Regions from separate parts of the Homo sapiens genome. Here region 2 is linked to region 1. The links come from fine-mapping of genetic effects on gene expression. A gene starts in region 1. The other region holds a variant in brackets. All regions are shown on one strand. Distances are between the middles of the regions.

Region 1 (5,369 bases):
TAGACACACGCCACTACCTCCAAGCCACCAAACCACCAACCAATCAAATTCAGCTCTCTACTACGTGCCAGCTCAGGTCAGCTCAAAAAGGGAGGTGGAGGCAGAAAACGGCTCCGGAGCCATCCTAGAGTGGGGCTTTTCAGGTCAGGGGAAGAGCACGTGACGGAGGCAGAGAATTAGAGGACACGGAGGAGATGGGCTAGGAGAGGTGGTTTAGGGCCAGGCTGCAGTCCAGAGACTATCTGGACTCAGCGACTTGATTCTGGACTCAATGGAGAGCCACTGCAGGTTAGTGAGGAGGGGAGGTCTTGCTCCTTGTCCTCCTCTGGCCTCCTCACAGTTTGCCCTGGACACAGTGACTCAAATTTCTGCTCTTCAGCCTCTGGTTCCACTGCCTTGCCTGTGGGGTGTGTGACAAAGCCCTGGGCTTCTGGGAACCCCCACTGGGGGGAAATGAACTCCTTCAGCAATGGGTAGAGCAAACCTGGATGCTTGTCCTGCCCAATTTCGATCTCCATCCGCCCTTCAAGCTGCAGAGAGGCTCACTCTCTGTCATTTTCTCTGGGAAGGGCCACGTGCTTGCCCAAGGTCACTCAGTCTTCAGGGCACCTGATTCCCCCACAGCCTGTGCTGAAGGTGGCTGCCTCAACTGTCCTGAAATTGGCAGGAGAGGCTGCCAGAGGTCTGCCCGCATCAAGTGCCCCCTACCCTCGTCTCCAGCTGGTCACATCCTCACCCTTGGGTCAGTGCCAGCAGCAGGTGGGGGTGGGGGCACTTGGTGCTGGGAAGGTGGGAGATGAGGAGTCAGCCACCCAGGCTCAGGGCTCCCAAGGCTGTAGCAGGACAGGGATCAGCTGCTTCAGGTGTAGGGTCAAGAATCTCTCAGCTGGACCTGGCCCGGTCCACTTCAACAGGCCCAATGGGACGTGCCCAGGGGTCTGATGATCAGGAGACATCAAGAAAGGAGATAGGAATGAAGTGGGGAAAAGGACCCTGACTCTAGCGCATGGTCCATCACAGACATTGGCGACAGGTTTGTTGAATGAATAAGTGAAGGAGCTACTGGCAGGGCTAGCTGTATCCTGGGTCCTGCCTTCCCGAGCCTCAGTTTGTGCACCTATCAAATGGGTCCAGCATCACTGCTTGTCTGCAGAAGGCTCAGAGAGAAGAGATGAGAGGAACTCCCAGCAGCCCAGAGTGTGTTCTTTCCATGCAGTCCAGCCCCTTCTCAGGATCTGATTCAGGATTTCAGGGTACAATGTCCCCTAGGGTCTCTCGGCTTCCTCATATGCGGTAGAGCCTGGGGTTCAGGACCTCACTGAGGGCCAGGCTGGGGTACGGCCGTGTGTACCACCTGGAAAGCCACAGTGAGACCCTGGAATTGGCCCTTGGTTGTCTGGGACACATTGAGCCAACCCTTGGTTTAACCTGGGTGTTCTCCAGGTTAGGAGGGGAAGGGAAAGACTTGGGTTGCTGTCCCTGGGACAAATGGGAACAGAACGGTGCCCTGACCTGAAATAGCTTCTTCATCTAGGCTACCTCTCCTCCCCAGAAACTAGCGCCTCACTTTGGGGGGTACTTACTCCCTCCCTGTCCCACAGGGAGTACAAAGTATGGTTTAGGTAAAGACCGCCAGTGTGGCCTGGGTCGGGCAGCAGAGTCACAGGGAAGATGCGATTCCCATTCATCCGCTCAAACACACCCCTTCCCCGCACTCTCACAGACAAAGACACACACCCGAAGCCCCAGCCATCACCCAGGGCCACATAAGGCAGCCCCCCTCACCTGTGGGCACCCCCAAATTTTCCCCTCTCGGGGGGACTTCACTAGAAGCTCAGCTTGGCCGTGGGGGAGGGGTATTCACACTCCAAGGACCTGGGGGCCAACCTCCAGGCTCGCAGCTTTTGGGGGGGGACTCTCCGCCCTCTTCCCCCCTCTCCATGGCACAACGGGCTCCACCACCACTCCTCCGTGGGGCCGGGGAGCTGCGCCCGAGCCTCAAGGCTAGGGAGTGGGGTGGGGGAAGGGAGAGGAGGAGGGGGCGGCTCCTCCAAGCGAGACACAAAGAGACGTCCTTCAGCCTCGGCTCCATGGCGACGCTGGGGAAGGGGGAGCGCGCAACCCGATACTTCCTTCCCCACCTGCAGGGCTATGGGGACCTCGGTGGCCACTCACCTGCCGCCCCTCACCTGGGCCCGGCTTACCTGGGCTGGGGCCGCGGGGACGCCGCGGCAGGGGGCCTGGGCGCCGTCGCGGTCTTCGTCTGCCCGGCCCCGGGGGCTCAGGGCGCCACGACCATGGACCGGGGTGCAAGCGGTGCCGCCAGGGGCTCAGTCGCCCAAGTCCTGGAGCTTTAGGGGGGGGATCCCCGAGGCTTCTTGCTGGTGAGAGTGTCTCTTGCTGTCCCCGGCTGCCTAGATTTGGGATTTCTATGTACCGGAGTTGGGGGGAATTGGGATCCCCTGATCTAGGGGCGTTCTGAGCTGGGTCTTCTTGTCTTGAGGTGTGGAGTTGTAATGACCGGATCTTGGGAGGGGGTTCTCGCAATCCCGGCCTGGGGGCACTGCGTTCTAGGTCTTGGGGCGGGGGCCCAGACTGAGGAGGGGGAGTCCTTGCGGTGCCGTAGGGGGCTTGCTGTCTTCTAAATACCGAGGAAGTCTCCGCTTTCCCCGCAGGGGAGTCGCTCGGTGTCGGATCCGGGAGGGCCCCCCCTCTTCCCCGAGGCTCGCCGGATCCTGGATGTGGAAGGGGGCTCCCCGCACTCCTCGGCTGCGGGGGCTTTAGTGGGTCCCGGCCACCGGCGGGCGCTGGAAGCCCCTCAGCCGCTGGGGGGCTCGGTCGCCGCCGCTACGAGCAGCCCGGCCCTGCGCTCCCGGCCCCCGGCCTGGCCCGGGCTCCGGCTGCGGCTCCAGCTCGCGCTCCGCCTGGCGCTCGGGCCCCGGCCCCGGCGCCCGCCCGGGCTGCGCTCCATCGCGGCATCGCGGCTCCGCCCTCCAGCCAGCGCGCACCTGCCCGCCCGGCCCGCGGCTCCGCCCTCCGGCTCGCGCGCCGCCGCCCGCCCCTTTGTCCGTCCCGCTCGGCGCGCGCCCTCGCGCAAGCGCGCTCACCCGCCGCGCGCCCGCCCTCCCGCCGCGCGCCGCGGAGCGCAGATTCTCCCCGCGCGGCGCCCCCACCCCCTTCCGGCCGCGCTGGGTCCTAGCGCCGGTGGCTCCCGAGCTGGCTCCCACCCCCCACCCCCCACCCACCCCACTCCTTTTCTAGGTCAGAGCCCACGAGGGGGCGAGAACGAGGTTACAGAGGACTCGGGGGAGTCTGAGAGGGTCACCTGGTCCAGCTTTCTGGGCCCTGCGGGACGAGACTGCCCCAGACTGTCCCGGTCTGTGCTAGTGGGGCGGAGCCTGTGTGTGTTTGAAGGAGGGAAAACAAATCCAGGTTCTGCATTCGGATATGCATTTCATTCATCCATGCGTCCGCCTGCCTGCCTGCGCTTCCATCCATCCATCCATCCGTCCGTCCATCCATCCATCCATCCATCCATGCATCCTATTTCCAGCGAGACGTCAGAGAACTCACAGTCTTCTTGGGGAAGAGGTCATAAACTTGGGCCTGGGTGGTTGCCCTATCCAACTGAGGTCGCCTTTGCGATCCCTGCTGCAAATAGGCAGTGACTAGTCCAGGAGTGCAGCTGGGAGGAACTGCTCGCCGGATAGAAGGGAAGAAAGGAGATTCTAGGCAGAGGTACAGCAGGTGTAAGGGATGTTGCATTGTCTGTTTGATAACCGGAAATTGGTGGCCTGGATGAAGTGGGTGGATGGGGACAGAGATGAGATAGGGACAGCTCGTCCTTCCAGGCCCTGTTCTTTCTCCTCCCTGCAGCTCACTCTTTCCCTAGTGAGAAAGCCCCAATAGGACGCCTTCCCTATTTCTTTCTTTTTTTTTTGTTTTTTTAGCTTCAAGCTTCAAAAGCATTTCTTTTTCATTCTTTTTTTTAATTATTATTATACTTTAAGTTTTAGGGTACATATGCACAACATGCAGGTTTGTTACGTATGTATACGTGTGCCATGTTGGTGTGCTGCACCCATTAACTCGTCATTTAGCATTAGGTATATCTCCTAATGCTATCCCTCCCCCTTCCCCCCACCCCACAACAGTCCCTGGTGTGTGATGTTCCCCTTCCTGTGTCCATGTGTTCTCTTTGTTCAATTCCCACCTATGAGTGAGAACATGCGGTGTTTGGTTTTTTGTCCTTGCGATAGTTTGCTGAGAATGATGGTTTCCAGCTTCATCCATGTCCCTACAAAGGACATGAACTCATCATTTTTTATGACTGCCCCTATTTCTTCTAAGTTTTTGATCAGGCTGTTTTCTCAACCCAGCGTAATCCTCCCAGCCACTCCCGACTGTTTCCAGAGCTTTAGGAGCCAGGGATTGCAAACGCAAGTACCTACAGGCGCAGACATGAGCGACTGGGGTCGCATGTAAAGTGATAGAGAGGGTGGAGAAGAGGGGAACTGGAGACATCGTGGGCTGTGCGTGGCTGGATGATATTCAAAGAGAAGCAGGACATCCAGAAATCTTCCAACTTTTAAATGTTTGAAACGAATTCCCAAAATTCGGAAATATTGAATGGGCCAAATGAAACACACTTTGCAGACAAATCTGGCCCCCAGACCATAGGTTGGCAACCTCTACCATTGAGAATATTGTTTCAGTTCTTAACTTGTCGGCCTCCTGCCTCTGTCTAGATTGTCTTTTTTCTCTTTTCTTTTCTTCTCTTCTCTTCTCCTTTCTTTCTTTTTCTCTCCCCGCCCTTCCTTCCTTCCTTTCTTCTTTCCTTCCTTCCTGCCTTCCTACCTTCCTTCTTTTTTTGACAGAGTCTTGCTCTGCTGCCCAGCCTGGAGTGCAATGGCACGATCTTGCCTCACCGCAACCTCTGCCTGCGGGGTTCAAGTGATTCTCCTGGCTCAGCCTCCTGAGTAGCTGGGATTACAGGCGTGTGCCACTATGCCTGGCTAATTTTTGTATTTTTACTACAGACGGGGTTTCATCATGTTGGCCAGGCTGGTCTCAAACTCCTGACTTCAAGTGATCCACCCACCTCAGCCTCCCAAAGTGCTAGGATTACAGGCATGAGCCACCGTGCCTGGTGATTGTCTTTTTTCTAGAATCCAAATCCTTTGGGATCATCAGGTCTGTAAAATACAAATGGGGTTGGGTTGCTGTCTTACATAAAACTGCCAAGGACTTCCTGTGTACCATCAGGGTAAAGTCTAACCTTACTTATCCTGGCATTCAAAGCCCTTAACATTTAGAGCCTGCTCTCCATTCCCCTACAAAGGACCTCTCTTCTCCATTCGGCCTTGACC
Region 2 (5,369 bases), 22 kb after region 1:
GTCTCAAAAGAAAAAAAAAAAATCTGAAAGAGAGGCCAGGTGCGGTGGCTCACACCTTTAATCCAGCACTTTGGGAGTTCAAAGTGAAGGGACTGCTTGAGGCCATGAGTTCGAGACCAGCCTGGGCAACATAATGAGACCCTGTCTCTAAAAAAAGAAAAAAATAATTCTCAAAATGGTATTAGCACTCCTGTGTTCTTTACAACAATATTCACAATAGCCAAATGTAGAAATAACCCAAATGGGTTGAATGGATGAAAAAAATGTGATCTATACATGCAACAGGGACTACTACAATTAAGCCTTAAAAATATGCGATGACAGGCCAGGCATGGTGGCTCACGCCTGTAATCCCAGCACTTTGGGAGGCCGAAGTGGGTGGATCACAAGGTCAGGAGTTCGAGACCAGCCTGGCCAATATGGTGAAACCCTATCTCTACTAAAAATACAAAAATTAGCCAGGCGTGGTGGGGCATGCCTGTAGTCCCAGCTACTCAGGGGGCTGAGGCAGAAGAATCGCTTGAACCTGGGAGGCAGAGGTTGCAGTGAGCCAAGATCATGCCACTGCACTCCAGCCTGGGTGACAGAGTGAGACTCCGTCTCAAAAAAAAAAAAAAAAAAAAGAAAGAAAGAAAGAAAGAAAAAAAATATGTGACAACATAGATGAAACTCAAGGACATTATGCAAAGCAAAATAAGCCACAGAAGGACACATATCTCATAATTCCACTTATATGGGATATCTAAAGAAGTCTAATTCCTAGATTTTGGTTCTATAGTTGTCAGAGTTGCAGAAGAAATTGGGGAATAGCTCATCAGTAGGCATAAAGATTCAATAAAGCAAGATGAATAAGCTCTAAAGAGCTGCTGTGTAACTCTGTACCAGGGGCTCACACCTGGAATCCCAGCACTTTGGGAGGCTGAGGCTAGAGGACCACTTGAGCCCAGGAGTTCGAAACCAGCCTGGACAACATAGCGAAACTCTGTCCCTATAAAAAATTTAAAAATTAACTGGACATGGTGGCATGCATCTGTAGTCCCAGCTACTCTGGAGGCTGAGGATGGAGGATTGCTTGAGCCCAGGAGATGGAGGCTGCAGTGAGCTGTGATTGTACTCCAGCCTCAGTAACAGAGTAAGACCATGTCTCAAAAAAACAACCATGTATTATACATGTATTGTACATTTAAAAATATGTTAGGAGGACAAATTTCATTAAGTGTCCTTACCACAGTAAAACGAAACTAGCAAATATTCATGTGCAGGATTTTCTGTGGGCATAAATTTTCAACTTATTTGGGTAAATACCAAGGAGCACTTGATATTTTCTGCCATTCTGTGGCTTCTCTTCACATTCTCTTGGCAGAGTCTTTTGCAGGGCAGAAATTTTCATTTTAAATTTCTTTCCCTTTTCTGTTCAAAAGTTTCGGTTTTCCTGGATTTGATAACATTTTTTGGAGAGGGGAGTACTTGTTTACCTACATGTTTATATATCAGTCAACCCATATTCTCCCCTACTTGTGTAAATGTCTCCAAAATTCAAAAACATTAGGTATTCTATCAATTTCATCTCCTTGAAGAGATCTCTTCTCTTATTTGAGTGTGAACTGCGAGATTCTCTTCTCCTCTCTCTTACATTCAATTCCTGTTTCCTGGAGTCCAGATGTTACTCTCTTTTTTGGGGGTGGGGGGACGGAGTCGCATTCTGTCACCCAGCCTGGAGTGCAGTGGTGTGATCTTGGCTCACTGCAACCTCCGCCTCCCAGGTTCAAGTGATTCTCCTGTCTCAGCCTCCCAAGTAGCTGAGATTACAGGCGTGTGCCACCATGCCCAGCTAATTTTTGTATTTTTAGTAGAAATGGGGTTTCACCATGTTGGCCAGGCTGGTCTTCAACTCCCGACCTCAGGTGATCTGCCTGCTTTGGCCTCCTAAAGTGCTAAGATTACAGGTGTGAGCCACTACTCCTGGCCCAGGTCTTACTCTTTATTGTTTTTCTTGTTTACTATTTCTTGTTTTACTTGGTTTACTCCCTTATTTTAGTGGAGTACATCCTCCAGTAGCTTTCTCAAGTAAGGGTGCGTAGGCCGGGTGCAGTGGCTCACGCCTGTAATCCCAGCACTTTGGGAGGCTGAGACGGGTGGATCACAAGGTCAGGAGATCGAGACCATCCTGGCTAACATGGTGAAACCCCGTCTCTACTAAAAGTACAAAAAATTAGCCAGGCGTGGTGGCGGGCGCCTGTAGTCCCAGCTACTCGGGAGGCTGAGGCAGGAGAATGGCATGTACCCGGGAGGCGGAGCTTGCAGTGAGCGGAGAGCACGCTGTTGCACTCCAGCCTGGGCAACAGAGCAAGACTCCGTCTCAAAAAATAAATAAATAAATAAATAAATAAATAAATAAATAAATAAATAAGAAAGGGTGCATAGGAGGTAAAATTTTTGAGCTCTTGCCAATCTGAAAATATTGTTTTTTCTACTCTCACTTTATTAGTAGTTTGGCTAAGTATTGAATTCTATGCTGAGGGCTGGGCACAGTGGCTCATGCCTGTAATCCCAGCACTTTGGGAGGCTGAAATGGGAGGATCACTTGAGCCAGGAGTTCAAGACCAGCCTGGGCAACATGGTAAAACCCTGTTTCTACAAAAATTAAAAAATTGGCCGGGTGTGGTGGCACTGCCTGTGGTCCCAGGTACCCAGGAGGCTCAGATAGGAGGATCATTTGGGCTCAGGAGGTTGAGACTGCAGTGAGACATGATTGTGCCACTGCACTGTAGCCTGGGTGACAGAGCAAAACCCTGTCTTTAGTAATAATAATAATAATAATAATAATAAT[AATAATT/T]CTAGGCTGAAAATAATTTTCTTTTCTACTTTTGGAAACATAGTTCCGGCAGATCGTGGTGGCTCACGCCTGTAATTCCAGCACTTTGGGAGGCCGAGGTGGGTGGATCACGAGATCAAGAGATCGAGACCATCCTGGCCAACATGGTGAAACCTCATCTCTACTAAAAATACAAAAATTATCTGGCTGTGGGGGTGTGCGCCTGTAGTCCCAGCTACTCTTGAGGCTGAGGCAGGAGAATCGCTTGAACCTGGGAGGCGGAGGTTGAGTGGAGATCACGCCACTGCACTCCAGCCTGGCGACAGAGCACAAGACTGTGTCTCAAAAAAACAAAAACAAAAATGGAAAAAACATAGTTCATTGTCTTCTCGTTTCCAGGATTGCTGTTGAGAAGTCCGATGCCATTATGATTCTTGATACTCTATACAATTTTGGAGAATTTTCTTCTTGTCCCAGTGTCTTGAAATTTACTGGCGATTGGCTTTGGCATGAGTCTATTTTTATCCTTTGTTTTTGTTTGTTTGTTTGTTTGAGACGGAGTCTTGCTCTGTCACCCAGGCTGGAGTGCAGTGGTGCAATCTTGGCTCACTGCAACCCCCACCTCCCGAGTTCAAGCGATTCTCGTGCCTCAGCCTTGAGAGTAGCTGGGACTACAGGTGCGTGCCACCACTCTCAGCTAATTTTTTTTTTTTTGTATTTTTAGTAGAGATGGGATTTTACCATACAGGCCAGGCTGGTCTCAAACTCCTGACCTCAACTGATCCTGCTGCCTCGGCCTCCCAAAGTGCTGGGATTACAGGCATGAGCCACCACACCCAGCCTATTTTTATCCTTTGGATGGTCACTCCGTGGGCTCTTTTAATCAGGAAACTCAGGCCCTTCAGTTCTAAGAAATAGTGGAAACATTTTTTTGACTATTTCCTCTCCTCTCTACTGTCTTTCTGGAGCTCCTTTGTTCAGATGTGGGATGCCTGCACTGATCCTCTAATCTTCATACCCTTTCTTTCCTATTTCCCATCTGTAGTAGTCATGGAGGTGGCTGCTTGGTTCTCCTTTCAAGAAAGAACTTGCAGGCCAGGCATGGTGGCTCACACCTGTAATCCCAGCACTTTGGGAGGCCGAGGCTGGTGAATCACCTGTGGTCGGGAATTCGAGACCAGCCTGACTAACATGGTGAAACCCCACCTCTACTAAAAAATACAAAAGTGAGCCAGGCATGGTGGCGGGCGCTTTTAATCCCAGCTACTCAGGAGGCTGAGGCAGGAGAATCGCTTGAACCCAGGAGGCAGAGGTTGCAGTGAGCCAAGATTGCACCCTTGCACTCCAGCCTGGGTGACAGAGCAAGACTCCATCTCAAAAAAAAAAAAAAAAAAAGGAAAGAACTTGCTATTTGGCTTTGAGGATTGCAGTTGGCTGACAGCCTTCAACTACACTGTCTTTGAGATCTGCCACAGCAGTTGAGCCAAAACTAAGGTCTTGTTGGGCAGCTCCAGCCAATGACTGAGGACAGTGGGGACAGTGGGGACACTGGAGCTCCTCTCCTGGACAATGTTTGCTCTTGAGCTTCTCTATAGGTTGGCCAAGACTGCTGGATCAACACCAAAGTGGCTGCCTAGCTCTTTTTTCCTTCTTTCTTTTTTTTTCGAGACAGAGTCTCGCTCTGTCACCCAGACTGGAGTGCAGTGGTGCGATCTCGGCTCACTGCAACCTCCGCCTCCCAGGTTCAAGCAATTCTCGTGTCTCAGCCTTCTGAGTAGCTGGGACTACAGGCACGTGCCACCATGCCTGATTAATTTTTGTATTTTTAGTAGAAACAGGGTTTTGCCATTTTGGCCAGGCTGGTCTCGAACTCCTGACCTCAGGTGATCCACCCGCCTCAGCCTCCCAAAGTGCTGGGATTACAGGTATGAGCCACCGAGCCTGGCCAATAGTTTTGATTTCTGGGCAACATAGTGAGACCCATCTTTACAAAAAAAAAAAAAACCCATTTTTAAAAATTAGCCAGGTGTGGTGGTGCACACCTATGATCTCAGCTACTCAGGAGGCTGAGGTAGGAGGATTGCTTGAACCCCAGAAGTGGAGGCTGCAGTGAGCCCTGATCCCACCACTGCACTCCAGCCTAGTTGACAGGGTGAGACTCTATCTCTACACAAAAACAAAAACCAAAAAACCCCCAGAACTGTTACTACTATATTTAGATATTTAAGAAAATATACTATAACTATGAAACAAAAACTGGATGCTATTTGACAGGGAGAGGGACCTCCAGGAATGAACAAAACTGTTTTATAAAGATGGGGTCTCACCATGTTGCCCAGGCTGGTCTCAAACTCCTAGGCTCAAGCAATCCTCCCACCTCAGCCCCCCAAGTAGCTGGGACTACAGGTGCACACCACCACGCCTGGTTAATTTTTACCTTTTTTTAGAGACAAGGTCTTGCTATGTGGCTCAGGCTGGTCTTGAACTCCTGGCCTCAAGCAATCCTCCCAGTTCAGCCTCCCAAAGCGCTGGGATTACAGGCACGAGCCACTGC

Direction of the effects. Positions count from the first base shown, and alleles are read on the strand shown. Sizes are in standard deviations (SD) of each study's normalised expression.
For the expression in Th2 cells of the gene that starts at base 2,980 in region 1, allele AATAATT in region 2 goes with a higher level than allele T (large effect, 0.76 SD a copy in Schmiedel 2018).

The links. PIP is the estimated chance that this variant, and not a neighbour inherited with it, causes the effect. A credible set is the group of variants that fine-mapping cannot tell apart.
Region 2: its variant is the best candidate, but not a certain one, in a credible set for the expression of SBK1 in Th2 cells (Schmiedel 2018, PIP 0.62).

What each region holds. Positions count from the first base shown.
Region 1 is chr16:28,290,136-28,295,504 of GRCh38, reverse strand. It overlaps SBK1 (SH3 domain binding kinase 1), which reads right to left and starts at 2,980. Exons shown (of 4, transcript NM_001024401.3): 1 at 2,205-2,980. LOC124903670 (a long non-coding RNA gene) reads left to right here and starts at 3,440. Exons shown (of 2, transcript XR_007065033.1): 1 at 3,440-3,738. RefSeq lists silencers at 2,880-3,109, 3,317-3,488.
Region 2 is chr16:28,267,874-28,273,242 of GRCh38, reverse strand. It overlaps a transcript of SBK1 not described here. Among named protein-coding and RNA genes, the nearest start is that of SBK1, 22 kb to the left of the region's middle. The variant AATAATT/T (reference allele first, on the strand shown) is at 2,831.